7 linked regions of the Homo sapiens genome follow. The protein of the gene in region 1 purifies or fractionates together with the protein of each later gene. This does not show direct contact. Each region holds a gene or a part of one and is shown on either strand. Other genes may lie near its edges.

Region 1 (3,500 bases):
CGTCAGTGGAAGATGATGATGATGTTGTTTTTATCGAACCTGTACAACCTCCCCCACCTTCTGTACCAGTGGTAGCTGATCAAAGAACCATAACATTTACATCATCAAAAAATGAAGAACTACAAGGAAATGATTCCAAAATTACTCCTTCCTCAAAAGAGTTGGCATCTCAGAAGGGAAGTGTAAGTGAGACAATTGTCATTGATGATGAAGAGGACATGGAAACAAATCAAGGGCAAGAGAAAAATTCCTCCAATTTTATTGAACGAAGACCTCCTGAGACTAAAAACAGAACCAATGATGTGGATTTCTCCACTTCCAGTTTTTCAAGAAGTAAGGTAAATGCAGGAATGGGTAATAGTGGTATCACCACAGAACCAGACTCTGAAATTCAGATTGCTAATGTTACAACTTTAGAAACAGGTGTAAGCTCTGTGAATGATGGCCAATTAGAAAATACTGACGGGCGAGATATGAACTTAATGATTACACATGTAACATCACTGCAGAATACCAACTTGGGAGATGTCTCTAACGGACTGCAGTCAAGTAATTTTGGTGTTAATATACAAACATACACCCCATCTTTAACTTCACAGACCAAGACTGGAGTAGGACCTTTTAATCCTGGTAGAATGAATGTGGCAGGAGACGTTTTTCAGAATGGAGAATCTGCAACTCATCATAATCCTGGTAAGCAGTAAGAGATACTCTACTTCATGTAAATGAATTTAAACTTTTGGCTGCTGCTTTTTTCATTGTAGTAACTGGTATTACCTTGTTTAGTTTCATCATGTGAAATATGTGAATTATATTGAATTTTATCTTAAGTTTGGTATTTTAATAAGAATTGTAAAACCATGTATAGTATTTTTCTGTGGATTACTAAAAAGTTAATCATAAAGTAGTTTTATATTTAAAGGATTTAAGAAAAAAATACTCTTTACATTCATCACCAAAGTCTGATAATTTGGCCGGGCACGGCGGCTCACACCTGTAATCCCAGCACTTTGGGAGGCCAAGGTGGGTGGATTGCTTGAGCCCAGGAGTTCGAGACCAGTCTAGGCCACATAGCGAGACGCCATCTCTAAATTTAAAAAGCAAAACAAACAAAAGAATGAAGTGTGATAATTTAATATCTTGTTTGTCATGCATTACTTTTTGCTAATAGAATTTTTACTAGTGTTTTAGTATATAAATTAGAGAACCAAAAGATTAATATAATAGCACACTTAAAGAACAGTGTAATATTGTACAGTAGTTGCATTTAGATTTTTTTTTGAGATGGAGTCTTGCTCTGTCACCCAGGCTGGAGTGCAGTGGCGCAATCTTGGCTCACTGCAATCTCCGCCTCCTGTGTTCAAGCGATTCTCCTCCCTCAGCCTTTCAAGCAGCTGGGATTATAGGCGTCCACCACCACGCATGGCTAATTTTTGTATTTTGTATGGGGTTTTATCATGTTGGCCAGGCCAGGCTGGTCTCAAACTCCTGACCTCAGGTGATCTGCCCACCTCAGCCTCCCAAAATGCTGGGATTACAGGCGTGAGTCACTGCACCTGGCCGCATTTAGATTTATTTCTACTTTCCCTGTGCTTATTTAATTTAATTAATTAGTTAATTTTTTGGGACAGGGTCTCTCTCTGTCGCCCAGAGTGGAGTAGAGTGGCACAATCTCAGCTCACTGCAACCTCGACTTCTTGAGCTCAGGTGATCCTTCCATCGCAGCCTCCAGAGTAGCTGGGACCACAGGTGTGAGCCACCATGCCTGGCTAAATTAAAAAAAAAAAAAAAAATTATTTGTAGAGACGGAGTCTTACTGTGTTGCCCAGGCTGGTCTTATACTCCTGGGCTCAAACATTCCTTCTGCCTTGGCCTCCTAAAGTACTGGGATTCTAGGTATGAGCCACCATGCCCAGCCATTTTATTTTTTATTAAGAGTTGGCTAAGGTTTTATTTTTCTCACATTTGAAGAAAGCCAAACATATCATCCTTTTTTTCTTTTCTAAAACTACTTTAAAGTTATGATTGACATGCAAAAGGCTGTATATATTTAATGTCTACAACTCGATAATGCCGTGTTTATTTTTGACCACGTATCTTTAGCTTTTAGTTAGCATTTTACTACTAAAAAATTTTTAAAAATTATTTTTATTTTTCAAGGGCATAAATAAGCAATACTTTTTTTTCTTATTTATTTGTTTATTGACAGAGTCTTGCTGTATCGCCCAGGCTGGAGTGCAGTGGTGCAATCTCGGCTGACTGCAGCCTCTGCCTCCCTAGTAGCTGGAATTATAAATGTGTGCCACCATACCCAGCTAATTTTTGTATTTTTAGTAGAGACGGGGTTTCACCATGTTGGCCAGATTGGTCTTGAACTCGTGGCCTCAAGTGATCCATCTGCCTTGGCCTCTCAAAGTTCTGGGATTACAGGTGTGAGCCACTGTACCCAGCCCCCCACCTTTTTTTTTGAAGGTTGATAGTTTTCTTGACTATTTGAAATTGTTTTCTGTGAGCAGCCTTGTTCTGTGAAAACTTTAAAATATGGAAGTGATAAGAACTCTGTGCCAGCCTGGACAACGTGGTGAAAAAATACAAAATACTGAAAATATGAAAAGTTAGCTAGGCATAGTGGTGCACACCTGTGGTCCCAGCTACTTGGGGGGCTGAGGTGGGAGGATTCCTTGAGCCCCATAGGCAGAGGTTGCAGTGAGCCAGGATTGCACCACTGTATTCCAGCCTGGGTGACAAAGTGAGACCCTGTCTCAAAAACAAAACAAACTCTGTGACTTTTTCATGACATGTCTGTGGATGTCTCTCTCTCTCTTTAACCTCTCCCCCAATTCCTCTGTGTGTGTGTGTCTATCGGCGTTTCTCTCTCACATGCCTCTCTCTGACCCATTCTGTCATCATTTTAGGCTCATTATCCTAGGGATTGTGGAGAATAATGTGAAGTAACTAAAATCTAGGCAATGTAGAATGCTATATGAATTGCTAGTTATTTTTCTTATTTGTCGAGTAATGTCTGATTATTGAAGACTGCTTAGAAAATCTATAATTTAAAACAAGAGCTGGTGCCAAGCATGGTGGCTCATGCCTGTCATCCCAGCACTTTGGGAGACCAAGGCAGGAGGATCACTTGAGCTCAGGAGTTTCAGACCAGCCTCTGGGCAACAGAGCAAGACCTTGTCTCTACTAAAGATAAAAAAAAAACTAGCCAGGGCTGGTTGCGGTGGCTCAAGCCTGTAATCTCAGCATTTTGGGAGGTCAAGGTGGACGGATCATCTGAGGTCAGGAGTTTGAGACCAGCCTGGCCAACATGGTGAAACCCCATCTCAACTAAAATACAAAAATTAGTGGGGCATGGTGGTGCATGCCAGCTGCTCGGGAGGCTGAGGCACGATAATTTGTTGAACCTGGGAGGCGGAGGTTGCAGTGAGCAGAGATTGCACCACTGCACTCCAGCCTGGGCGACAGACTGAGACTCTGTCTCAAAAAACAAA
Region 2 (4,952 bases), on another chromosome or scaffold:
TTAGACACAACACGATCTTATGTATGGATGACAGCACCACTAATAACAAATGCCAGTGACCTAAACGGGGAATAACTTCAAATGAAACAAAAAGCACCTCATATCATATTTATCCTGAAAGACACAACTGGCTGAATAAAATCTGAATACAGGAAACATAGCAATGGGTTGATAATTTTGGTGGAACTTGATGATGTGTGACCCACGCCCAACACAGTGTGACCCAAGCCCCCAGGAGGGTTCTCTAAGTGAGTTTGGTCGGAGGCTGCCATTCACAGTGACTTGTATTTGCCACAGCAGCTCTTTCTAAGCCCAGTCCTGGGATTATCTCAGGGATCATCCCACACCCCAGCGGGGAGATGGGCCAAGTCCCCACCTGACCTCATCTTAGGTAGAGAGGCTTCCATGGAAGTGTGGGCTGGCTGTGGGGGGTTGAGACCTAGCCCCGTTCTTTTGACATTTCACCCTGTGTTCTCCAAACTCCAGCAAGCAGCTTCCATAGCTCATTAAATTTGACTGAAGGTCTGATGGCTTGCAAAGCAAATTCTTTACAACTGTTATAAAGGTTTCATTGCTTAAGCATATAATCTAGCAAAACTGCCAAGCCCCCTCCACTCCCTAAACTCTAAGACTTGCCAGGGAAGAGAACAGTGGCCAGTGGACTGCAGGAGTAACTGCACTCAGCCCAGAACTCCCTGGAGGACACAGGGAAGGTTCTGGAAAGGTGGCGGTACCTCACAGGGAGAGACGTGGTGCTCCAGGGCCCAACTTGCTCATGTTCAGATCCTCACTCTGCAACCCACCAGCCGGCTGTGAGTGGCTACACAATCTCTGCCTCAGTTTCCCTATCTGTACATGGGTTGTTCATAGCCTCCACCTCAGAGGGTAGTAATGATGCCAAGCTCTTAGAACAGTGCTCAGCATGTGTGCATCCTGTGCCTACTCTATGCCAAGCACTACAGAGAGAAAAATGAACAAAATAGGGAGAAATCCCTGCCCTCATGGAGTTTACATCGGGGCAGGGGGCGGGGGCGGCACAGAGCAGACAATCAATACAGTGATTAGCCCCCAGTTAGGTTAGGCATTTCCAATCTTTGCCAATAAGCCACATATTTGCCCAAGTTAGGGTGCATCCTTCCCATGAACTTTGACTGTGACCTTTGACTATGGGGTGACATCTTATAGCTGTGGTGTTTTGCCAACCAGCAGCTCTTGGTACACAAAATGTGCTGCTAGCAGGTGCCCCGGCCAACCTTGTCCTTGACCCACCTGCCTGTTAAGAAAAGGGTGTTGTGTTTTGCAACAGCAGTAAAATGGGTCAAGGTTTAGTCAGTTGGAAGTTGTGTCAAAACTCACTATGGTTGGTTGAGGGCTCGAAGTCTCCCAGCATTCATTAACAACTATCTGTTCAATGATTATCTCCCTGGGGCGTGTTGCAGTGAGTTGGCCCAAAGCATAACTGACCCTGGCCGTGATCCAGAGACCTGCCCCCTGACGTCAGTGGCGAGCCTCCCTGGGTGCAGCTGAGGGGCAGGGCTATTCTTTTCCACAGTATTTAAAGCTGGGAGGTTCTGCCACCAAGCACGGCCTTCCCACTGGGAACACAAACTTGCTGGCGGGAAGAGCCCGGAAAGAAACCTGTGGATCTCCCTTCGAGATCATCCAAAGAGAAGAAAGGTAAGTAGAGCTTTGCATTTACATTTTGAAAAATTACAAAGATGAACTCATTTTTTTCCTGAGAGCAATAACTATTTGGCAATGCACAGCCCTGGCAAAAGGCCGTCGAATGTGTTTGAAGGTGTCTGTTGTTGTTTTTGTTCAGGACGCTTGCGTTTTCTATTTCAGGTGACCTCACATTCGTGCCCCTTAGCAGCACTCTGCAGAAATGCCTCCTCAGCTGCAAAACGGCCTGAACCTCTCGGCCAAAGTTGTCCAGGGAAGCCTGGACAGCCTACCCCAGGCAGTGAGGGAGTTTCTCGAGAATAACGCTGAGCTGTGTCAGCCTGATCACATCCACATCTGTGACGGCTCTGAGGAGGAGAATGGGCGGCTTCTGGGCCAGATGGAGGAAGAGGGCATCCTCAGGCGGCTGAAGAAGTATGACAACTGGTAAGCTCGGCCCCCGCTGCCTGTCCCAGCACCCTGCAGGCAGGGCTCCCCTGCGTCTCCTGGGAGTTGGTGGAGAAAGGTGAATGAAGGCCTTCGGGTAGTTTCAGACTCTTGAGAAGATGAATGCAATGGTCAGAACCATACAGACTTGAATTTTGTGACATTAGTGGGCCAGCCCAAGCTTTAAATGAGGTGTGTGCACAAAAGCTCTGCCAACTAGATTCCTGATTAAAAAAAAGGCAGCCCCTCTCCTACAGACCAGGTCCTAGTGGAGTAAATGTCCACCTGGCCATGTCTTAGATGGTCTGTGTGTTCACACTGATGGACTGTTGTTAGCGTGCTCAGCACTCTGCTAGGCATGGAAAGCCACGGTACTGAAGGAGATGGTTCGCTGCCCGTGGTGCTTGGCTGAAAGGAAGCCTGTGATTTTTGCAGCTGGTTGGCTCTCACTGACCCCAGGGATGTGGCCAGGATCGAAAGCAAGACGGTTATCGTCACCCAAGAGCAAAGAGACACAGTGCCCATCCCCAAAACAGGCCTCAGCCAGCTCGGTCGCTGGATGTCAGAGGAGGATTTTGAGAAAGCGTTCAATGCCAGGTTCCCAGGGTGCATGAAAGGTGAGCGGAACATTGATTTGATTGGGTAAAACAGCAGAGAGCCTTTTCTTATTTACATCTATCCTAATGGTAATTCAAACAATAATGGAAGCTCCCACCACCTCAGATGTCTTTCAGTTCCATACATGAAGTTGGCAATGTATTGAAAATGCACATCCCTCTTCTGCTTTTACAGACTGTCTTATACAAACGTGAAAACTAGTTCCATGCATATGGGTTTTAAATAGCTTGGTGGGACCCAATTGCACATTTATGAAAACTCTTTAATTTCAGCAGGCTGTTCACTTTCCAGTGGCCTCTTCTAACCCAGGGGGCTGGTGACCAGCAGGGTGTGGTGGTGTTAGTGGAACACCGTGAAAATGGGTCTACCTGGGAAAAAAATGCTGGTCGTGTTCGAAGTCCAAGGTCATTTCTCACCAGTGCCCACCCATCGCACCCTGTAGGTCGCACCATGTACGTCATCCCATTCAGCATGGGGCCGCTGGGCTCGCCTCTGTCAAAGATCGGCATCGAGCTGACGGATTCACCCTACGTGGTGGCCAGCATGCGGATCATGACGCGGATGGGCACGCCCGTCCTGGAAGCAGTGGGCGATGGGGAGTTTGTCAAATGCCTCCATTCTGTGGGGTGCCCTCTGCCTTTACAAAGTAAGTGTATTATTTCAGAATCAAAAGTCAAAATAAAAAAGAAAGCTGAACGCAAACCCCAGTGAGTGCCTCGGGGACCCCCAAGCAGGGCCCTGGCGCACTGACTTGGGAGGGGTCCTTGTTCACAGAGCCTTTGGTCAACAACTGGCCCTGCAACCCGGAGCTGACGCTCATCGCCCACCTGCCTGACCGCAGAGAGATCATCTCCTTTGGCAGTGGGTACGGCGGGAACTCGCTGCTCGGGAAGAAGTGCTTTGCTCTCAGGATGGCCAGCCGGCTGGCCAAGGAGGAAGGGTGGCTGGCAGAGCACATGCTGGTGAGCCTGCAGGAAGCCCTGATGTGCAGATGAGAGGCCTGGGGGGTGGCAGAAACAAACAGCATTACAGTTCCCACCCGTCAGCACACCTCTCTGAGCGTGCAGGTTCCCGGACAGATCGGGAAACCCCACCAGTAATGATTAGTTTACACATATACATCGCTTTTGAAGGCCCCCAAACACCAGGGGACCATAGAGATCCTTTGGACTTCATGATTCTGGGAGTGTTTGTTTGCACTGATACCTGAAGAAATAGATCTTGAGGGCCTACATTCCAACCTCTGGGCTGAAGTACCAACCTCGGGGAGAAGGAAACAAAGATCACAATAAAGAATCTTGTCCCCAACAGATTCTGGGTATAACCAACCCTGAGGGTGAGAAGAAGTACCTGGCGGCCGCATTTCCCAGCGCCTGCGGGAAGACCAACCTGGCCATGATGAACCCCAGCCTCCCCGGGTGGAAGGTTGAGTGCGTCGGGGATGACATTGCCTGGATGAAGTTTGACGCACAAGGTGACTCTTTTAGACCCAACTCTTGGTAACGATTGGACTCAAGCGAATCGTTGGCCTTCGAAACATGTCACATTCTCCTCAGTCCAGTGTTTGGATTTTTAAACTCTGTTAGTCCAGAGTTGGCCAAGCCTTAGAAATATGGATCCTGTAAGAATTCTTCAACTTAATATTCAATCTGGATTGAAACTGGGCCATATGTTGCTGTTTGTTTACATACATACATTTGTTTAAATGGTATTGGTGGAAAATTGTGGAGGAAGCAAGAGTCGTAAACGTATCAAAGTTGCATATGATGCTTGGATGAAAAGAGATAAATGCATATTCTAGGGAGGGAAAAAAGATTTGAGAAGTTGGCATAGAAATTAGTCCGGCAATATATAAGAGTATATGTTCTGCTTTGCCTGGCACTCACTACTGCTTCTCTGGTTTAAAACTCTCCAGGTCATTTAAGGGCCATCAACCCAGAAAATGGCTTTTTCGGTGTCGCTCCTGGGACTTCAGTGAAGACCAACCCCAATGCCATCAAGACCATCCAGAAGAACACAATCTTTACCAATGTGGCCGAGACCAGCGACGGGGGCGTTTACTGGGAAGGCATTGATGAGCCGCTAGCTTCAGGTGTCACCATCACGTCCTGGAAGAATAAGGAGTGGAGCTCAGAGGATGGTGTGTCCCTGCCAGAGGCCTTGGTGTGCCGGGCTGCAGGGACTGCCTGTTTGAGCCAGGCACTCACGAGCCTTTCTCTGTCTTA
Region 3 (4,436 bases), on another chromosome or scaffold:
GACTCTGTGTCTCCAAAAAAAAAGAACCCTTTAAAAAATGTAAGGGTAATTTTTGGCTTGGGGGCTATACCAAAACAGGTCATGGGCCAGACTTGACTCATGGGCTTTAGTGTGCCAACTTTTATATATAGCATGTATATAAATTAGTTATTGTATCTAATAGGATATGTAATTCATTCATACAATCTGCAAGTATATATTTTGTGCTCATTGTGTGCTTATGCTGCTCTAGCACTGGGATACAACAATAAAGAAAACAAATTCCTATCCTCAGTGAGTTTACCTTTAATGTGGGAGACAGATAACAAACAAGGGAAGAAATTTAGAGAGGGGTCAGTATTTAGAGAAATACTGTGGGGAACAGTGAAGCAAGGTGGGCAAGCAAAATAGGACAGTGAGGAAGGCTGGGAGGTGGGGTGCTGTTTATGCAAGGGGTCAGGGAAGTCTTTCTGACAGGTAACACCTTGAAGGAAACAGGAGCCAGCTGTGCAGAGAGCTGGGTGGGAGTGTTCTGGGGAGGGGGCATCAAGGGCACAGGCTTGAGGCAGAAGCTTGCTTAGTGTCTCTGAAGAGCAGCAATGAAGCCACACTAGTTGGGGAGGTGGAAATAGGAGAGGAGGTAGTTGCAACCTCACCTTGAACTGTCATAGCACCTATTCGCTGTCCTTGCTTATCTTCTTTGAGAAACTGGGGCAGGGGTCACATAGGATGAAATTTACAATTTGGAGCCTTGTCAAGGCATTGCCACCCAAAGACAAAATTCTGATCCTACCTTTCCTTAAATCCTACAAGCCCTATGTCACTTGGGAGAATCACTACAGAGGAGGATTTTTACCTTGTTAAAATGGAAAGATTTCTTTTAGGGATCTGTGCCTCTTAAACTATAGTGCATGCAGATCACTGAAGGATCTTGTTAAAATGGAGCTTCTGATGTATCAGGTCTGTGGGTATCTGGGTCCTGAGTATCTATCTGCATTTCCAACAAGTTCCCAGATGCCACTGATGCTATTGATCCAAGGTCCATACTTAGTATGACGAGCTTTCTAATCAGTATTTAAATTACAAAATCTTATAAGTCTAACCTTCTAGTTTCTATTTATATTTATTGGATTGTAAACTCCTTAAGAGTAGGAATTATCTTAGCTTCTTGTATCAGACTCAGCACTTAGTTTAGGAAACTGCAATTATTAGGAGCTGAGTGAAAAATACTATTCATGTAAATGCATATATAAGCACACTACTCTGAAGGAAGATATGTGAGGGGAAGATATGTGGATTTTATTGTGCCTTTTGTCTGAATTTATCTTTCACAATAATATAGTTGAAATTAGCCTAGAATTTAGAAGGACAGTTATAATTTTTCCCAGTTAGTAATTTGAATGATGTCAAATGGATTCGTATCCTTTAGAAAATTTCCATTTTTTTCACAAAATTGTATTATATTTTGATATTACTTTAATACATAACTCAGCTAGAATATGTATGTTTCATTTCTGGAATGTATATTCTAAAATTTATATGAAAATGCAGAGGATCTAGAATAGCTGAAACAATTTGGAAAAAAGAATAAAGTTGGAAGACTTAGTCTCTCTCTTTTTTTAACCATAAAGTTATAATAATCAAGAGTGTGGCATTAAAGAATAGTCAAGCCGGGTGCGGTGGCTCACACCTGTAGTCCCAGCACTTTGGGAGGCCGAGGCAGGCAGATCACCTGAGGTCAGGAGTTCAAGACCAGCCTGACCAACATGGTGAAACCCCGTCTCTAGTGAAAATACACAAATTAGCTGGGCGTGTGGTGGCAGACGCCTGTAGTCCCAGCTACTCAGGAGGCTGAGGCAGGAGAATCACATGAACCCAGGCGGTGGAGGTTGCAGTGAGCCAAGATCACGCCACTGCACTCCAGCCTGGGTGACAGACTCTGTCTCAAAAAAATAGAACAATGGGACAGACCACAGGGTCCAGAAATAGAGCCAAACTTAACATGGTTAAATGATTTTCAACAAGAGAGATGAAGAAATTTAAGGGAGAAAGGAAATTCTTTTTAACAAATAGCACTGGTACAACCAGATATCCAAATAGAAAAGAAACATATAATAAAACACACGACTCAAAAACATTATGCCTAGTAGAAGAAGTCACACATGGCTGCTGGACGTGGTGGCTCATGCCTGTAATCCCAGCACTTTGGGAGGCCAAGGCGGGCAGATCATGAGGTCAAGAGATTGAAACCATCCTGGCCAACATGGTGAAACCCCGTCTCTACTAAAAGTATAAAAATTAGCCGGGCATGGTGGTGTGTGCCTGTAATCCCAGCTACTCAGGAGGCTGAGGCAGATGAATTGCTTGAACCTGGGAGGCAGAGGTTGCAGTGAGCCGAGATCGTGCCACTCCACTCCAGCCTGGCGACAGAGCAAGACTCCATCTCAAAAAAAAAAAAAAAAAAAAGTCACACACAAAAAAGTGCTTACTGTGTGGTTCCATAGAGGCAAAGCTAATCTATAGTGATAGTGTTTAGAATAGTGGCTGCTTCTAGTAAGGGGTACTGACTGGGAAGGGACCATGGGAGCTTTCTGGGTTGAAGATGTTCTATATACTTTGATATGGAGGGATCATTCAGTACTAGTCAAACCGTGCACTTCAGATCTGTTTATTCCACTCTATGGAATTTAAACCCCAATCAAATACAATGTACCTGTTTTTTGCTATGCTAATAAAATCTCTTGTGGTTTTGAGGTACACAAAAATAATGAAGCTACTTCATTTTTCTTTGTCATCCACATTTAGCACACTATTACGGAAAGAAGAAAAATAAAAGAATTGGGAGGCCACCTGGTGGGCATAGTAACTTAGCTTGTGCCCTGAAAAAAGCCAGTAAGAGGAGAAAGAGGCGGAAAAATGTTTTTGTTCATAAGAAGAAACGCTCCTCTGCATCTGTTGATAATACCCCAGCGGGCTCTCCCCAGGTATGAGATCTGTGATGTGCCTGTAATGTCTTGAAGCCAAGTGACCACTGCTTTATAGTATGGACACAGAATACCTGCAGGTCTTTCTAACTCAGATCTCTGGCCAATAGAAGATGGTTTTGTGGCCCAAGAACTGGTTTGTCCTGAATTTCTTTTCTTTCTTTATTATTTTTTTTTAATCATATGAAACCTGGGATTGATGTCCTGAATTTCAATGAGACTTCTCTCCTTTTCCTGCAGGGAAGTGGGGGTGAAGATGAGGATGACCCAGATGAAGGGGATGATGATTCCCTAAGTGAAGGCAGTACATCCGAGCAGCAGGATGAGCTACAGGAAGAATCAGAAATGTCAGAAAAAAAGTCATGCTCCTCTTCTCCCACCCAAAGTGAGATATCCACATCGCTGCCTCCAGATAGACAAAGGAGAAAAAGGGAGCTTCGCACCTTTTCATTTTCTGACGATGAAAATAAACCTCCTTCACCAAAGGTACCATTTAAAAAATAGTTTCTTTTTTCTTTCTTTCTCTCTGGAATTTCCATCTGGAATATGATTATTAGTGATATTGACATTCTACTTCTTTCAATACAGACTTATGTAGAATTTCCAGGGTCTCTTGTAAAGTGACCCCAAATGCAGTGATTTACATGTGTTTCAAGGATTAGTTGAGATCATCTACTTATAGGGGGAAAGTCTCTCTCAGAGTAGCTGCTTGTTTTAACAACAACAACAAAAAAAGCCCCATTGCTAGCTTATTTGTAGCTTGTCATTTATTTTTGGGAAAACTGCCTTTTTAATATGTTTCATAATATATATGGTTTTGTAGAAAAAAGTTATCCTTTTGATTCTGGTTAAGCCATTTGGCTTAATATATTATTTACTATATACATATGAACATTTTATAACATATGTATAACACTAAAGAACAATTTAGTGTTCAAAAACTAGATTGCTTTTTAAGAATATTCCATGAACAGAAGCAGTAAAGATTCCTCCTGGTAGTTTAGTTAAGCCTTCTCTCAATGGAATTATCATCCCCTTCTCTTCAGCACCCTGTTTTTCTTAGTTAAATTGTCTAAATTATCTGTGCTGGAACTTTGAGATAAATTCTTTCCCATTGATACTTCGTATTATAAAAGACAGACATTTCCTGAGTACCTGATGCACGTGGGTCTTTGCCATCTTTGCTGGGAGAAATCATGTCCTAAGACCACTTTAAATCATGTCTTGAAAGATTATGAATTTAGGTAGAGAGACTTTTTTAGAATAAAATAGCCGTAACACCATTTGGTTTGATTGTGTTGTGGGGAATGAAGGAAATAAGGATCGAAGTTGCTGAAAGGCTTCACCTGGACAGTAACCCCTTGAAGTGGAGTGTGGCAGACGTTGTGCGGTTCATCAGATCCACTGACTGTGCTCCATTAGCAAGAATATTCCTAGACCAGGTAATCACAGATACCTATAATTTTTAGTAAT
Region 4 (3,500 bases), on another chromosome or scaffold:
AATTGTGTTAACAGTTTAGTGTTTCTTACAGATAACACTGATAACACTTTTTTTGTTTTCATTGGGTCTTATCATTGGTACAGACTGATCCAAAAATCCAATTGGCTTGCTAGTAATTTTTTCCTGTGAATTGCTAAGATTTATGGGTAAATTAATTTTTCTTTTTCTTTTCTTTTTTTTTTTTTTTAAGCATTTGCTCCTTAAATGCAAATCGTACCACTAAGATCCTCTCACAACAGATTAAGGTCGAATTTGCAGAGTTCTTCAATTTTTCATGAAGCAGTGAGGGTAGATCTGTACCACTTTTTCCGTTCTGTGTAAATCACCGTTTATGGGAAACACTTGTTTTTTAGGTTGGTGCTATTTAAAAAAAATAAATAAAACGGTAGGCATTTTCAAAACATCTCTGAACTTTTTTTTTTTCCCAAACTGGATTGGGGCCGCCTCCTCTCAGAGCTACTCTTTAGAATAGTATTAAACTTATAAAAGCCTTTGCTGGCTTTGGGAAATAAAATTTTTAATAATTCTCAGTTCTTTTCAAGGCTTGAATTGTTTTCTGTCCTTCAGGGTTCACATATTTTGTGTATGGTATAGCTCACTGGCTTTTGCAGGGCCCCTTAAAGTCCAGTAACAATTGCCATCAGTAAATGCTTACCATGAGGCAGACCAAGCACTTGAATAGTCCAGTGAGGTACAGGTACAACTGCTATAGTTTACAATTGAAGAGGCTCAGAGGTAAAGTGGTTCAGGTAGCCAGTGAGTGGCAGAGTAGGGATTCAGACCCAGAACATTCATAATATTTATTTGTGTGCATAACAAGTAGTTGTAATGTCAGTTAAAAGTTTGTATTCCCATTTTGGTTTTCTATGTCTAGAGTGGCACCTAGGGCTGAAGGTGATTGACACTAGAGGTACTTAACTACTTCCAGAGAATTTCTACATTAGCTTATTTTAAGTGCATGAATTCTAGGGAAAAATATTTTACCCTTTGCAGATGCCACCCCTAAGAGATGCACCAACAAATAGATGACATGAAATTAAGCATTAGTGAATGCTGTTGATACGAAATATGATCTTCAAACATAAAGGAATCAAATGAACAAACTTTGTTTACAGGGGAGGAGGTGGTGAGGGAAAGGTTTGAAATACTCAGGTGAGTAGGATTCCTACAGCTGCATAGTGAGATTTGTAAGGTTCTGGTAAGTTTCTGCAGCTGAAGGACTTCTGCATTCACCTCTTTTGTAAATATTATGGAATTTTAAAAGGAAGGATGGTTGCCTCTGGGGAAGGGAACTGGGAACTGAGGTTATTTTGGAGGGGAAGGGGGGCTTCTAGATGTACCTTTTATGCTTTATTAAAAAGTATATTACCTATTAAAGTTTGTTTAAATCTATTTGATTAAAAATTTGAGTAAACTGGTTTCTAAACACTGTCTCCAGTGGCTTCAAAAACACAGGTACTGTTGGAAGGCATTCACTTTTGAGTGGCCTTTGACCTCAGTTTTAATCTGATTAATTCAGTCATTTTATAATCTTGCTCTTGGTGAGTTTAAACTAGATTTGGCTAAAATAGAGGTGGGAGTGTTGGCCCTTCAAAGACAGTTTGATGTGTTCAAAATTGTAGTGCATTTAAAAGGGTTAGACTTCTGTGATATTTGTCCAACGTCAATCAGTACTCATTGCATTTTTTTACTTAGGCTCTTGATGTTAGTGGATACTGGTATTATATGCAACTTCTGAATAAGTTTTAAAGAATTTGAATAATCAGTTGAATAAAAACCTGAAAAGTGGTGAATGAAAATTTGAGAGATAAGGAAAGGCTAGAGTTGGCATTCAGGGGACACAAATAGTTTGAAGACTCTGGTAGTAGAATTATGCAAGTTTTCTTAAAATTAGGCAATATATAATATTGATACTACGAAATTCAGTACTTTTCCGTAGGAGGGGGTCAGGTCTCATTGCCTTTTCCGTACCCCAAAATATGAAAGGTGGTCTACAATTTTGTTGTGGCATTGTCACAGCAGTTGGCCCCATGTTACATTTCCTCTTGTGGCACCTCTGAGAGGTGTTTCTTCATTACCTCTTGACAAGAGTATATTTTGATTGACTGCTCTATGTGCTTGTTTATTTTTTATAGCATTTAAATCAAACGGTATTGAGATGGATTGGGTTATGAAACATAATGGTCCAAATGACGCTAGTGATGGGACAGTACGACTTCGTGGACTACCATTTGGTTGCAGCAAAGAGGAAATAGTTCAGTTCTTTCAAGGTACCTCTAGTATTAGTCAAAGTTTAGTAGTATTGTAATTTTATATTTGTATTGTTTTACTGTTTTTAATTTGTAAAACCCATTTGATTTTGGAACTTTTAAGTTTAACTATGATAGTCTTGGTTAATGTATTAAAATAATATGCTCCAGTTAATATTCAATACAGAATGTGTAGAATATGTAAAACCTAGTTAATGTGCAGTAACATATTTGAGAATTGTGATGAAATGAACCGTGAATTAGTATATGGAGCATATATTTGATTTTGTAGCCTTTTTTCATGTAATATAGGTGGGCTTTTAGAGTGTGTAATTACACAGTGTTTTTACACTGGTCGCAAAAAATTTATTTAATCCAGTAATATTTGAAAAAATCTTTCATTTGTATTATGGGGTGATGGGAAACTAAGCTTTTTTGTTTTGTTTTGTTTTGTTTAGACTTGTTTTAAATATTTGATTCAGATGGGAATGTTTCAGCCTTTAACACTGTTCCCCTTGATGGGGTTATTTGTCCTTGGGTTAAAGGGTTGGAAATCGTGCCAAATGGGATAACATTGACGATGGACTACCAGGGGAGAAGCACAGGGGAGGCCTTCGTGCAGTTTGCTTCAAAGGAGATAGCAGAAAATGCTCTGGGGAAACACAAGGAAAGAATAGGGCACAGGTGGGGATGGAGAGTTTGGGATGGTGTTAAATTTTTATTTTTGGGGGTTGTGGGTCACTATTGCTTAAATGGGGGGGTAGCCATAACATTTTTCTGGGGTAGTTTAAAAGAATTGATAATTATCTAAATTTAACTTGGAAACTACAGATTTGGGTGGGGAATTAATGCTAATAGTTAAATTAAAATTAGATTGTTTCCATTTCTCTGTAGGATGTTGTTGATAAATGCTTTTGTATAATCACCTATTTCCTTTAAAACACCTATTATGTACTAAAAGAGACAAAGTAAAAATATACTTTATGAATTGTTTTCCGTGACTAATTTCTTTGTAAAACTTAAATATTTAATTAAGTTTGTAGGTTTAAACTGTTAACTTACGGTGTATTTAGGCAATTTAAATTGGGTTATGTATCTAGATATAGAAAAACTTACTGCATTTTGCCCAGTATCTAATTTACACTAATACATTTATGCTGAAACCTGTACCTTAAAACATTTTTAAATAGGTATATTGAGATCTTCAGAAGTAGCAGGAGTGAAATCAAAGGATTTTATGATCCACCAAGA
Region 5 (4,436 bases), on another chromosome or scaffold:
GAAGCCAGGAGCTGAAGGACACCCGCTGCAGGAAACCACCTTCCTGTCCCTTTTTGGGTAACACTGATGATCGGAAAAGCTCCACCCCAACTCCTGTCATCTAGAGCCTTGGGTTCTTAGTTTGAAGGGTTCCACAGCAGGCATGATCTAACTCTGGACAACTTTCTGTATCTCAGGAGATTTGTGCCACACCCCGGCTGTTTCCAGATGACCCACGGGAAGGGCAGGTGAAGCAGGGGCTGCTGGGGGATTGCTGGTTCCTGTGTGCCTGCGCCGCGCTGCAGAAGAGCAGGCACCTCCTGGACCAGGTGCGGGGCCCCTTCCCTGTGTTTGTCCTGGAGCCGGTTTCTTTTTGCGTTTCTCCAGCCTGCTGAGTACCAGGAGGCCTTGCGAAAGCAGAGCTGTGCCGCAGCCGGATCTCCTGCTGTGTTGGGGGAAGGCAGGAGAGTTCCAAGGCAGAGGCTGAGGACTGCACTCTGTCCCTCTGCTGCAGGGGGGGGTGCCTTGGCCTCGCCAGAAGGCTCCATCAGGGAGGTTCGCCCTGCTCTGTGCTCTCCTGACCCCCGGACTCCATGGAGTCAGATCACCACGTTTAGAATAAAGAGACAAATGTGCCAGCTCACAGGAGGACGGGGCTGGCTGGCAGCCTCTGCCTCAGATCTCTCCTCAGCTAGCTCGCTGGTTTTCTTACAGGTTTTGAATATAAGTTTGCAAAAAGTTATTAAACCTGTTTCTGTGGGTAGACAGATACTCTGGGAGGAGAAGGCCTTCTCAGGTTTTCCTTACCTGGGAGTGTTCACCGTTTTATGCTTGGCTTGTTGCTAAGTGTTGCTGATTAATGCAGCGGCGTCAACAGTGTGACCTCATTCAGAGTTTCACTCATGTCCCAGGCCCCATGGTAAGCGTGTCACAGTCACTGGCTTTCAGACACATGGTCTTACCAGCTTTGACTTTTTTTTTAAACGAGAGTGCTAAAATCACTGCCATTGTGTTTCTGGCCGTAAAGTGGCAGAGCCAGGACCGCACCAGGTGCCTGGTGCCCAGCCTGCACTCCCCCGATGCTGGGTCAGAATGCTTACCCCTGAAGGAGCCCTGCGGTGGACGCTGTGGGTGCAAGCAGCTGGCCCAGTGTCGGGGCGCCAGGCTCCCAGCAGCAGGAGGGGCTGCTGTTCCTGTGGTGACGTGTTGCTTGCAGCCAGCTCGGTCAAGAACTGGGTCACTCATGCCCTTGAATGTCACATTTGTTTTGGCTTCAGGTCAGATGCTTTTAGTGAGGGCAGCAGAGTGTGTCCCGGGATATGTGGCTCCCTCGGTGTGGTCCTCAAGTTTTGCAATGAGAGGTCTGTTAATTTCATGTGGGTGATGCAGCCCTGTGCAGGCGCCGACATCCAGGTGTGCCGAAGAGTTCTCTGCGACATCCAGGTGTGCCGTAGAGTTCTCTGCGACATCCAGGTGTGCCGTAGAGTTCTCTGCGACATCCAGGTGTGCCGTAGAGTTCTCTGCGACATCCAGGTGTGCGTTAGAGTTCTCTGCAGACCGCGGTGCCTGTGGAGCACTCAGCTGTGGCCACACCGCGGCCGGGACACTGGAGTAGCGCCGGGTGGTGCTTATATCACGCTCGCCTTTTGCTTCTCCCTGTGCATGGCAGGTCATTCCTCCGGGACAGCCGAGCTGGGCCGACCAGGAGTACCGGGGCTCCTTCACCTGTCGCATTTGGCAGTTTGGACGCTGGGTGGAGGTGACCACAGATGACCGCCTGCCGTGCCTTGCAGGGAGACTCTGTTTCTCCCGCTGCCAGAGGGAGGATGTGTTCTGGCTCCCCTTACTGGAAAAGGTCTACGCCAAGTGCGTGTGCTGGGGGCTGAAGGGCCTGGCCTGGGGCAAGTGGGAGCTGCCACTACCATGGGCTGCCCCAGGAGGGTCTCTGCTCACTCTGGGCTGCAGAGCCCCCTTCAGTTCTGAGGGTCTGGCAGCTCATTCTGTGAGTCAGGCTGACAGGCCAGGTGCAGAGATTCTTCTTTTGGGCCTGTGGATTGCCCACTCCCTGCTTTCCCTTCCCTTGTTCCAAAGCCCAGCGTGGAGTCGTTCTCCACAGAGAACATGTGTGCCGTCCTCCTTATTTTATCGGCCCCAGCAAGAAAGATGCTTCTTTATATTTGTTGTGGAGTGGTTGGGACAGGCAGACTCATTGTGTAGTCGTTGGGGAGGAATGAGGCTACCCCAGCATACCAACACTTGTGTATCACGGTGCTTGCTGGCTCAGGGGACCAGGACCCTCACCATGAGTCATAATTGAATAGCCTTCCCTCTTAGAATGCATTTGTCTTCTTGCCAAAGGCAACTGGACTGACAGGCAGGCAGGGAAGCTGGTGAACATGGGAAGGCTGGCTGGTGACATCAGTGCCCAGTGAGCCCTTCCATCCCAAGGGCTGTTTTAGGAAAAGCAGGGTTGGAGCTTGAGAGCCAAGGGATGTGGGCATCCATAGCTTCCACGCCTCCTGCCCTGCTCCTGTGCCCACACCGGATGCCAGAGAGTTTCTGTGTGTGGGCAGAGGACTGCAGGGCGCTCACGCTTGCTGTGAAGTAAGGCGTTTGAAGGTGAGGCTAAGCCTTGACTTGGTGAGGATGAGGAAGAAGGCAGAGGGGAGTAAAGAGGTGGGATTGAGGCAGCGGTTGGACGATTTGGGGTGCTACAGACCATGGGAATCAGAGAGGGGGCCATGCTCAATGCCAGAGGCTCACTCCCATGGTGATTGTGTCCCCTAGGGTCCATGGGTCCTACGAGCACCTGTGGGCCGGGCAGGTGGCGGATGCCCTGGTGGACCTGACCGGCGGCCTGGCAGAAAGATGGAACCTGAAGGGCGTAGCAGGAAGCGGAGGCCAGCAGGACAGGCCAGGCCGCTGGGAGCACAGGACTTGTCGGCAGCTGCTCCACCTGAAGGACCAGTGTCTGATCAGCTGCTGCGTGCTCAGCCCCAGAGCAGGTGAGGCACGTGGCCAGCATGGGAGGGCTGCAGCCAGCGTGCCCCCCACTGCCAGGCCTCAGGCACACTGTAGCTTTTTATGTGACTGGCTACACAGCCCTGTCAGGACTAAGTGGGAAGAAGTAAGCTTGTTCTCAAGGGTGGTGTCCTCAGTTTGTGACCTTCCCCTACTGTCCTCTTCCAGAGGGACGTGGCCCTTCTCTCCCCTGACCAGTCCTTTCCACTAGTGCGAGGCAGGAAGAGGTGGCACCGAGTCAAAGCCCACTGTCTGTGCCATCCCTGGCCCAGCTGGCAACCTGGCAAAATCAAAACCTGTTTTTTATTTTAGTGATAGATAACATTCGTTAAAAACAGTTTGTCTCCAAAAAATGAAAGGGGCCAGGTGTGGTGGCTCACACCTGTAATCCCAGAACTTTGGGAGGCTGAGGTGGGAGTATCGCTGGAGCCCAGGAGTTCAAGAGACCCGCCTGGGCAACATGGCAAGATCTCATCTCTACAAAAAATGAAGGAAAAAAATCACTTAGATGGAACCACATGTGACTTTTGAGTGCGCTCTCAGTTTTCCATGAGCACGCACGGTTTACGTGTTCCCTTCCGCACCGCTTCTCACACTGCCACACACGCGCTGTCAAATGTTCGCCCCATGAGCGGGTTTGCCACAGTCTCTTAATCATTCCCCTGATGTTGGATATTAAGATCTCTCTGGTTTTATATAATTATAAGCAGTATCAATGAACATCTTTATCATTTTTTTCATACTTAGGATTATTTTAAAAATATGGGTTAAAGAATATGAATATCACAGTAAACTGAAACAAGTTGTCATAGGCCTTGGTCTGGGTCCCCCATAAGCAGACCCTGAGATGAGGTTCAGGAGCACGTTGAGAGGTTCAGAGAGCCTGGAGGGCGTGTACTCCCCGCCAGCCCCGCTGGGGTGCCAGGAAGGACGCTGGCCTCAGAGCCTCCCACCTGGGAGTGAGGGCGCTGGTCTGGTGGGCATTAGCTCGGGGAGCTGTTGGTTTTGGGTGCTCCAGGGTGGGGTAGCGCTAAGTCCTAGCACTTCAGGCTTTAGAGGAAGCCCCCAGGCAGAGAGAGATGGCAGCTGGCACTGACTGGAGGTGCATTGGAGCCTGCTGAGGTGGCAAGGGGCCGCGGCGTGGGCGAGACTGAAGTCCTTCCAGGAGACCCTCCTCTCTAGACCGTTGCCCCGCCACAGATGTGGCCTTCCTCTCTGTTTGGCTCTTTCTTTTCTATGCCCATCTGTCTCAAGGTCTCTGGCCAGGTGGAGCTGTTGCCCCCCTGGGCCTCCATGCCTCCAGTGGGCTTCTAGCCAGGGCACTATCTGAATGTCCTACCTCTAGCAGGCTTTGCCAAGAGAAACACTCTCTAGATTTCTGGCAGTTGCAGATGCATCTGTGCAGCATGTTTGAGAACTGGTGCTGTGCCAGGCAT
Region 6 (4,436 bases), on another chromosome or scaffold:
GCTAACAAGCAACCAAAGAAATCAAAACATGTAACAACAGAGAATTTTTACTTTTGTAATAAAATTTTTTTATCCAACAAGAAAAACTGAAAGAAAAATGGAGTAAGATTGAGTCGTTTCAATTGTGATTTTTAAGCTTTAATAGTTATTCTACTAGTTACCATTAAAAAGGTGGGGAGATTTTCTGTGAGTTCCCCAAAATCACTATTACATGTGCTGTCTGATGGCTACACGGCAGTCAGTTTAAAAGGACTCATGATAAAATCATCTTGGAAGTTAAAGAAGGGAGGATATGGGTTTTTCTCTCTGTAGAACTGATGGATAATAGGAATTAAGGGTATATACAGCTGTTCCTTATCATCCAAGAGGGAATGATCCCAGGACCCCAAAATCCACAGACGCTTTAGTCCCTGATATAAAATGGTGCAGTATTTGCTTAAACCTTCACATACCCTCCTGTATACTTTAAATAGTCTCTAGATTACTCATAATACCTAATACAATGTAAATGCTATGTAAATAGTCGTTATACTATATTGTATTTACTTGTATTGTTTTTATTATTGTTATTTTCTATTGTTTTTCCCCCCAAATATTTTCAATCCATGGATGGTGGAATCCACAGATGTAGCAGATAGCAGGGCCAGCTGTATTTACATTCTCCCCTGTTACAGAAGGGATTTAAGACAACTTAACCAAAATCATACAGGATGAGAAAAATCAGCAAGAAAATGAGACCAAAGAAAAGTAAGAGTAGGAAACCCTTACGCAAGGAACGAAAGGCAAATCCTGGTGGAGGCTGCCCTGCCCAGGGCAAACCCTGACTCAGTGAGAGCACTCTCAGGAGCCACCACTTCAACTGCAAAGTGCTCTTGTGCTGAGACCTACCTGCCATCACGTGACCTACGGATGTGCTAGTGGTGGGCCCAAATTCAGCTACAAACTTTTCAGCAGGCAGCCATGAGAAGTCACGAGACTGTGTCCTACTGTTCAGGGTTAAGTGTAAAAACATACTAAGGCCTGAGGGAAACTTCTCCCAAGGTCAATGATGGAGGTATCCTTACAGGAAGTACAGTGTGATGGAGCAGCAGTCCAAGTTCATCCTCCAAGAGAGTACACGGAGGGCACCACTCTATGCTGCCAGCCAGAGCCACAGCCTTCAGAAAAGGGAGGGGTCTTTCAAGGCCACCAAGTGATGCCACGGGCCTCTCCTCGGCCGGAAGGAATCCCCTCTGGCAGGATGTTGCAAACACTGTTCAATCCCTCATCTCCATCTTCTGCCTTGGTCCCAAAAGCTCTGCAGCAAATGCATTCAGCTGCAGTTTCCCACTTCTGTGCATGTGGTTTCCGGGTATGTGGTTTCCTCTTTCAAAACCTTTAACTGTCTCATCGTGCACGTCCTTATGACCTGTCCAATCTCAAACCCTTTTTGAAAGGAGGTGGGAAAATGTAACAGAGGCTGTGAATGGTGGGAAAATTATTTTAAAAGAAAAACCAAATTATACTCCTTACTGTCCATCCTAAAAAATAGACTTGAGGGGAAAGCAAGCAGTAAAGAGCCCTTTTTTTTCTTAATTAAGCTGTTGGCAGGGGGGATTACAGCCTCCCACTTCAACAATGGCCTGGGCACAAGCCCAGACGGCATTCCAAGGTATTAAGAGCTACGAGGAGCCCGCCCTTTGAGCCCAGGTTCACGGCAAACAATGGGAACAGAGACCACAAATAGGCCACTTTTGAAACATCACAATTAAAATTTGGAGTGTAAATGACAGAAGACGAATTCTGATCTCATGAGACATTTCCAAAGCTTGAAAGTGTTGGAGAGCTCCTTTCATAATTTGCATATCGCTGCTGTATCCTTAAAAGTATAAATATGCGACTAATACTTAATGATCCACATGAACCAAAAATCAGTATCGTTTAATGCAAACAATTAAACCACCCTGAACTTGTTCTGGCCGACCACTTTGCAAATCACCGTCTCCCTGAACTGAGGCACCGTCCTCTATAAAGCCCACCTAAACACAGTCACCAGCCACCCTGGCCCCACAGCCTCCACACTGGCTTTCCATCCCACACACGCGCCTCCCAGGTGGTCACCCACATCACTTTTCCAGGCTCACGGACACTGCTAAGGCTGAACAAACAGTCATCGTGGATAAGGAGACCAGCCTTACACACACTTCAACCACTTTCAGACCCACTCCCAGCATGCATGGCTTGGCGACTTGAAAACCTGGACAAAACCTGCCGGTCAAGGACAACTTTGCAGTGCTTGGGCTGGATTTAACTGAAGGCCAGACAACTTGATTCCAGTGTTAGCTTCTGAGGCCACATTCTGTGTCTGGATCCGTGTGCGCCTCTAAATTGTGCCCAATTACCTGCAGACACTGCCATCAGTTACCAAACACGCCGAGCAAAGTGTAACAGTCTTTGCGCCTATGGTCCACCTAGAAAACCACAATTTCAATGGCCTCAACACCTACAGTCAATAATCCTCAGGCTTTTGGTTTACAGGCATCAACTTGACACCACATCAGAGCAGACTGGACCTTATTTGTAATCATCCAGAAAATGTATTTGTCTACAGAAAAAATGCTGCAGCTATAAATGCTTCAGAGATGACACTGAATTCAGGTGAGAAGATGGACAGCTTTTATGCTTGTAAACTGTAGCTAGGTTTTCTTGTTCACCCAATGCCATCCGGAACCAGAAGCCAAAAAGGCCTCAACAACAGGTGGAAGCACTGAGTATTTACATTAAGATACAAAAGCTGAGGCCCCTGCACTGAAAATGCTGCCACCAGATCCTCCCCAATGTCACCTGGAAGCGTGAAGTTACAGTAACTGAGGAAAACGGTTGTGACACTAACCAAGTAAATGTGTGCTAAGCTAATTCTGTCACTTCAGGACAGAATTAATGGTAACTGACTGAAACGAGAACGGGCTGCAGCTCTGTGCCTAGCGGACCTCCACACCAGCAGCCTAACGTGCTCAAAATGGAATGCAGTTTCTCTTAGAGCTGACATCTTTTTGTGGTTTTACTGTAGCTTTATTACAAAATAACTGCTTACTGTAGAAAAACCAGAATATATAGAAAAGAGCTAAGAAGAATATAAAAGATCACTTGGCATCACAGTGAGTACATCCTTTGATGTTTCCTTTTCTATGCTACACAAACATACACTTTTGTTTTACTTTAAACACAGAAGGGCTTTGTACTGGCCATACTGTTTTACAGTTTACTTTCACTTAAGTATATTCTGAACCTCTCCTCATGTCAATAAAAGTATTTCAGCCACACCATTTTTACTTGTTAGAGATGCAGACCACAGTATGGATGAATCAGTTAAGTCAATTTTGGTCCTTATCTCCTAAAGCAGGACACCTAAAATACCTGAAATTTCCACTTCATATGTACACATTTAAGCACACCTTTAAAATTCCTTTGGAAAAAATTCTAGAGCAATTGCCAGACCTCAAGAGAGCTGCATTTTAGACTTCTTGATAAATGCTACCCAAGCGTCCCTCAACAGGTACCGGTCCTGTCCAGCTCTAGCTAGGTACCGGTACTTGACCAACTCTAGCCACCCTCTGCAGCAGCAACACCGCTGGGCTGATCTTCCAAAACACACATCCCATCAGGCTACTGTCCTGCCGAAATGTCACCAATAGCTCTGGACAGCAACCACACAAAGCCTGGCACGCAGACCTTCCCTCCATGTCCCTGCCCACCACTCTACCACCCACAGCCTACACCTAGCCCCAAAGAGCTGGCCTTTCCCATCGCTCCTTCACTAACTCCTGCCATTTCATGTTGTAGGAAACCTGTAGTTGTCTCTGCCTCAAAAACACCTCTTCATCTTCCAAGACTCAGCTAGTGGGTAAAAAAAGGGTGGGAGTGTGGGTGAGACATTTCTTGATCCATCACCCACTGGGTGTAAGCCTCTTTCTTCTGCTCCCCCACAGTGATTAGTTCACGCACCCTGACAGCCCTCATCAACCAATACCATCGCTCGTTTCCTTCTGAGACAATGAACTCTGCAGAGACTAGGGCCCTGTATTTGGAATCTACTGTTAATAAAGAGCAGCTTAGTTAACAGACAGGGGAACGTGAAGCTGCCGGTGCAATGGAAACAGTCACGCACAATCCGCTATTGACAGCCACATCTATCCCTGGAATCAATCCGCTATTGACAGCCACAGCCATCCCTGGAAATCCCTGGAATATTGTTTGAGCGCTTCAAGATCTTGAACCTGACATAAAAAACTACACTCATTTTCAGAGCCACATGGTTCCCTAGTCTCCTACAGGAAATTCACGATCTGAAATGACTTGGTGCTCCAAAAGTTCACTTACAGGTTGATTATTTGGATTTTACATGGAAAAGCCTTCTGTATAAATGTTTGCCAAGTTGAATTCTATCTAAGAAAGTG
Region 7 (4,436 bases), on another chromosome or scaffold:
CCTGACCTCAAGTCATCTGCCTGCCTCAGCCTCCCAAAGTGTTGGGATTACAGGCATGAGCCACAAAGCGCAGCCACATTTTATATTTTAGAGACCGGATCTCCATCTGTCACCTAGGCTACAGTGCAGTGGTGCAATCATGGCTCAATGCCGCCTCGACCTCCCAGGCTCCAGCAATCCTCCTGCCTCAACCTCCCGAGTAGCTGGGACTACAGGCATACACCACACCCAACTAATTAAAAAAATTTTTTTTGTAGGGACGGGGTTTCACTATGTTGCCCAGGCTGGTATTGAACTCCTGGCTTCACATGATCCTCCTGGCTCAGCCTCACAACTGAGCTGGGATTAAATGCGCGCGATTAAATGCTGGGATTAAAGGCGCGAACCACCACACTCAGCCCCAATTTGAAATCTAGGGTGGGCCTGAAGCCCACGCCTCTACGACAGTGTGAAGCCTGAGGAGTAACCTTTGTTTTATCCCCTTCTGCTTCCTAGGAATTTCCGCGTTGGTCCCTGGCTTTCCTTGTCACTTTCCGTTCAACTATAAAAACAAGAATTATTTTAACTGCACTAACGAAGGATCAAAGGAGAACCTTGTGTGGTGTGCAACTTCTTACAACTACGACCAAGACCACACCTGGGTGTATTGCTGATGCTGAGGTGAGAGCAGGGACCAACAGTGGTCATTTCACGGATGCAGAGGTGAGACAGGTGCACAACTGGTGTGTCACTGATGCGAAGGCGAGATCTGCTTTTTCAAGCGTGTCTGATTAGCGTCGCTGATGTGAAGGCGAGATCTGTTGCTTTTCCAGCATGTCTGATTAGCTGAGGTTCCCAGCAATGCGGGCTCCTGTTGTCAAAGATAAGGTGGAGTTGGGGAAGACTGGAACAACTCCCCAGATTAGAAGGATGAAAGAAATTGGGATTTCCCCCAGAAGCAGGAGAGCAGAGGGGGATTGGCAAACTTTTTCAGACCCAGGAAGGTATCATTCCAAGTTTCAAGTCTGGGAGGCTTTGGCTGTTGATGATTAGAAAAGTGGAATTTCTCAAAGTGGAGCATGGTATGAAAAAACAACCCAGAAAAGGGGATAACTGACCAGCTGTGGTGACTCACACCTGTAATCCTAGTGCTTTGGGAGGCCAAGGCAGGAGGATCAGTTGAGGCCAGGAGTTTGAGACCACCCTGGGCAATGTAGCAAGACCCTGTCTCTACAAAAAAAAAAAAAATTAGTTGGGTGTGATAGCACACATCTGTAGTCCCAGCTACTCAGGAGGCTGAGGTCAGAGGATCCCTTGAACTCAGGAGTTGCAGTGAGCTATGATTACACCACTGTACCCCAGCCTGGGGAACAGAGTGAGACCTTGTCTAAGAAAGAAAAAGAGAAAGATGGACGAAAGGAAGGAAAGAAGGAAGAAAGATGAAGGAAGGAAGGAAAGAGAGAGGGAGGAAAAGAGAGAGGAAGGGAAGAAAGGAGGGAGGGAGGGAAGGAAGGAGGAAGGGAGGGAAGAAAGAACGGAGGGGAAAGGAAGGAAGGAGGGAAGGAAGGAGGGAGGGAAGGAAGAAAGAGGAAAGAAAGGAGGTAGAGAGAGGGAGGAAAGAAGAAAGGAGGGAGGAAAGGAAGGAAGGAGAGAAGAAAGGAAGGAGAGAGGGAAAGAAGGAAGGGAGGGAGGAAGGAAAGAAGGAAGGGAGGAAGGAAGAGAGGAAAGGAGGGAGGAGGGAGGGAGGAAGTGAGGGAGGAGGGAGGGAGGGAAGGAGGAAGGGAGAAAGTAGGAAAGGGAGGAGGGAAGGAATGGAGGAAGGGAGGAGGGAAGGGAGGGAGGGAAGGAAAAGAGGAAGGAAATAAGGAAGGAAGGGAGGAAGGAAAGAAGGAAGAAAAGGGAAGGGAAAGGAAGGGAAGGAAGGGAGGGAGGAAGGAAGGAAGGGAGGGAGGGAGGGAAGAAAGGGAAGGAGGGAAGGAAGCAAGGAAAGGAAGGATAACCCAGAAGCCAAGACACCATGGTGTGCATCCATTGCCCCCATCACTGAGTAGCTGACCAAGGGAAAAATGGGGTTTATTTCTCTTCCTTCACCATTTGGGCCTCCTGCCCCACCTCAGCCCGCTGGTCATCAAGTACCTCCACAGAACCAACTTTATCCCTCTTTTCTTTTTTTCTTTTTTCTTTCTTCTTTCTTTATTTTTTTCTTTTTCTTTATTTTATTTATTTATTTTTTTTGAGACGGGGTCTCACTCTGTCGCCCAGGCTGGAGTGCAGTGGTGCAATCTCAGCTCACTGCAGCCTCTGCCTCCTGGGTTCAAGAAATTCTCCCACCTCAGCCTCCTGAGTAGCTGGGATTACAGGGGTGTGCCACCATGCCCAGCAATTTTTTTTTTTTTTTTTTTGTATTTTTAGTAGAGACGGGGTTTCACCATGTTGGCCAGGCTGGTCTCAAACTCCTGACCTCAGGTGATCCATCCAACTCGGCCTCCCAAAGTGCTGGGATTACAGGCGTGAGTCACTGTACCTGGCCTATCCCTCCTTTTCTTCTAGTCTTTTCCTCTCTCTACATTCTTCACAAAGGACCAGCTGATTGAAGCAGGTGGTGCAGAGGGTATTTCTAAAGGTGGTTATTTAAGCTTGAAAGATGTTCTCCAGCCTGTAGAAATGGTCTCTAAATCTCCCGCATGGATCAACTGACCTCACTGCTCTGTGACTTCTGGAATCTAAATAAAAAAAGAGAAGCCCTTTCATCAGATGTGTAGACAAAACCCCATCCCTCCTCCCTTTGGGGTGGAAAACCCTGGTGGTTCTAGCAATGTCTGTCCTTACAATGCATGTGGCTTATGGATGACACTAAATTAGCGGGCCCTTCCTGAATTTTGCCTTGGTAATGAAAATCATCTTCCTGGAATAGAGGAGAGGGAAAGGAGGGGGTTTGGAACTCTGGGCACCATCTTAACAGGGTAGATATTAAAAAACACCCACAGTGGCGTTCAGTCTGTGGCTAGGACTAGGAACAGCGTCCAGCCTCTGACTTCTGTCCATCACAGCAGAACTGGCACTTTGCAGGTCCCCTTCCCCTTAGCATAGAGGTGAGATTGAGGAGCTCATTGTTCATTGATCTCCTTGCTCCTATGAGCTAGGCAGGGATGTGGGGGTGGGGGCGTCTGATTCCTCTCAGCTCAGCTGCTTCCGACTAAGTCTGGAAAACCAATACAAAGTCATTTTTAATTCACCTTCCTCTTTGAGTCAATGCCTACTTATTCATTAAACTCAGATCTTTGCTTCTATTTTCAAGGAAAGGAGAAATATCTTCAGAGGAAGACTGCCGCCATACTGAGGCTGAGCACAGATTTGTCTTTTTCATTGCATCTGTCAAGCTTAAATAACCACCTTTAGAAATACCCTCTGCACCACCTGCTTCAATCAGCTGGTCCTTTGTGAAGAACGTAGAGAGAATGCGGCATAACCACCAATAAAGGAGTCTTGATTTAACCCTGGGATCTGCCTTTTCTGCTTCCTAAGATGAGACCGATGGTGAATGTGTGGGGAAGGAAAGATTGGTAGCCAGGCTGTCGAGTCTCATAGTGTGGAGAGGTCAGACTCTCAGGCCAGGGACCTCTAGGAGTCATTACAGCCTGCTCTGTCTTCTGAGGGAAATCACAGATTTGGGTGGGGTGTTTGTAGATACATATTAAATTATTAATGAATAAATTAGGAAGTAAACAGAGGGTAGAAAATTCACCACAAGACTGCCTCAACCATTCCCTCCCTGTGCCCATGGCAGATATCAAGAACTGATTACAGAATCTGATTCCCTCTCAGCCCAGATGGAAATTCACATTGTTGTTCTTGTTCTTTCTTCTTCTTCCTTTCACTCTTCTTCTCCCTCTCCTCCTCCTCCATCTTCTCCTCCTTCTCCTCCATGTCTCCTCTTACTCCTCTCCTACTCCCTCTTGTCCTCCTTCTTCTACTCCTCCCTCTTCTCCTCCTCCCTCTCCACCTCCTTCTCCTCCTCCCTCTCCTTCTCCTCCTCCTTCTCCTCCTCCCTCTCCTTCTCCTTTTCCCTCTTCACCTCCTCCTTCTCCTCCTCCCTCTCCTTCTCCCTCTCCTCCTCCTCCCCCCGCCTCCGTGTCTTCCTTGTGCTGGAATTCTCTTACCCCTTGTCTTCCTGCAGTCTCCTCCTCCCTTCACTCATTGTCCGTGGAATTGCCCCTGTGATGGAGATAGACGTGGGCTTCCTAGATCCCCCTTCAAGAAAGGACTTGCTGCCCAGCTCCAGTGAGTGCTGTCTGCAGGCAGCCTTTGGTGTTCAGCCCAAATCAGAGATGGTCTCAGCTTCAAAATGGCCTCCCTCGCCCAAACCATGCCCTTCCCAGGGTAGGCCACAACTAACGAATGACCAATGCTGGGTTTAAAGGCCTGGCTATTCCAGTCCAAGTGAGATAACTCAAAAA

The links.
Region 2: the proteins of ZMYM2 (region 1) and PCK1 purify together in Homo sapiens (affinity purification with mass spectrometry; one large-scale study listed by BioGRID and IntAct). This does not show direct contact.
Region 3: the proteins of ZMYM2 (region 1) and SFMBT1 purify together in Homo sapiens (affinity purification with mass spectrometry; one large-scale study listed by BioGRID and IntAct). This does not show direct contact.
Region 4: the proteins of ZMYM2 (region 1) and HNRNPH3 purify together in Homo sapiens (affinity purification with mass spectrometry; one study listed by BioGRID and IntAct). This does not show direct contact.
Region 5: the proteins of ZMYM2 (region 1) and CAPN10 purify together in Homo sapiens (affinity purification with mass spectrometry; one large-scale study listed by BioGRID and IntAct). This does not show direct contact.
Region 6: the proteins of ZMYM2 (region 1) and CHSY1 purify together in Homo sapiens (affinity purification with mass spectrometry; one large-scale study listed by BioGRID and IntAct). This does not show direct contact.
Region 7: the proteins of ZMYM2 (region 1) and ELSPBP1 purify together in Homo sapiens (co-immunoprecipitation; one large-scale study listed by IntAct). This does not show direct contact.

The regions. Positions count from the first base shown.
Region 1 is NC_000013.11:19,993,227-19,996,726, forward strand, and holds part of ZMYM2 (zinc finger MYM-type protein 2), read left to right. Parts: coding exon 1-693; intron 694-3,500. UniProt on the Homo sapiens protein: Involved in the negative regulation of transcription.
Region 2 is NC_000020.11:57,559,527-57,564,478, forward strand, and holds the start of PCK1 (phosphoenolpyruvate carboxykinase, cytosolic [GTP]), read left to right. Parts: upstream 1-1,583; 5' UTR 1,584-1,677; intron 1,678-1,845; 5' UTR 1,846-1,885; coding exon 1,886-2,109; intron 2,110-2,544; coding exon 2,545-2,726; intron 2,727-3,169; coding exon 3,170-3,373; intron 3,374-3,501; coding exon 3,502-3,689; intron 3,690-4,038; coding exon 4,039-4,201; intron 4,202-4,642; coding exon 4,643-4,867; intron 4,868-4,952. UniProt on the Homo sapiens protein: Cytosolic phosphoenolpyruvate carboxykinase that catalyzes the reversible decarboxylation and phosphorylation of oxaloacetate (OAA) and acts as the rate-limiting enzyme in gluconeogenesis.
Region 3 is NC_000003.12:52,906,082-52,910,517, reverse strand, and holds part of SFMBT1 (scm-like with four MBT domains protein 1), read left to right. Parts: intron 1-2,784; coding exon 2,785-2,963; intron 2,964-3,203; coding exon 3,204-3,449; intron 3,450-4,276; coding exon 4,277-4,405; intron 4,406-4,436. UniProt on the Homo sapiens protein: Histone-binding protein, which is part of various corepressor complexes. Mediates the recruitment of corepressor complexes to target genes, followed by chromatin compaction and repression of transcription.
Region 4 is NC_000010.11:68,335,064-68,338,563, forward strand, and holds part of HNRNPH3 (heterogeneous nuclear ribonucleoprotein H3), read left to right. Parts: intron 1-2,135; 5' UTR 2,136-2,158; coding exon 2,159-2,270; intron 2,271-2,794; coding exon 2,795-2,933; intron 2,934-3,439; coding exon 3,440-3,500.
Region 5 is NC_000002.12:240,589,167-240,593,602, forward strand, and holds part of CAPN10 (calpain-10), read left to right. Parts: intron 1-176; coding exon 177-308; intron 309-1,648; coding exon 1,649-1,845; intron 1,846-2,766; coding exon 2,767-2,984; intron 2,985-4,436.
Region 6 is NC_000015.10:101,241,484-101,245,919, forward strand, and holds part of CHSY1 (chondroitin sulfate synthase 1), read right to left. Parts: intron 1-4,436. UniProt on the Homo sapiens protein: Has both beta-1,3-glucuronic acid and beta-1,4-N-acetylgalactosamine transferase activity. Transfers glucuronic acid (GlcUA) from UDP-GlcUA and N-acetylgalactosamine (GalNAc) from UDP-GalNAc to the non-reducing end of the elongating chondroitin polymer.
Region 7 is NC_000019.10:48,021,675-48,026,110, forward strand, and holds the end of ELSPBP1 (epididymal sperm-binding protein 1 precursor), read left to right. Parts: intron 1-495; coding exon 496-653; 3' UTR 654-660; exon of another isoform or gene 661-702; intron 703-3,277; 3' UTR 3,278-3,480; downstream 3,481-4,436.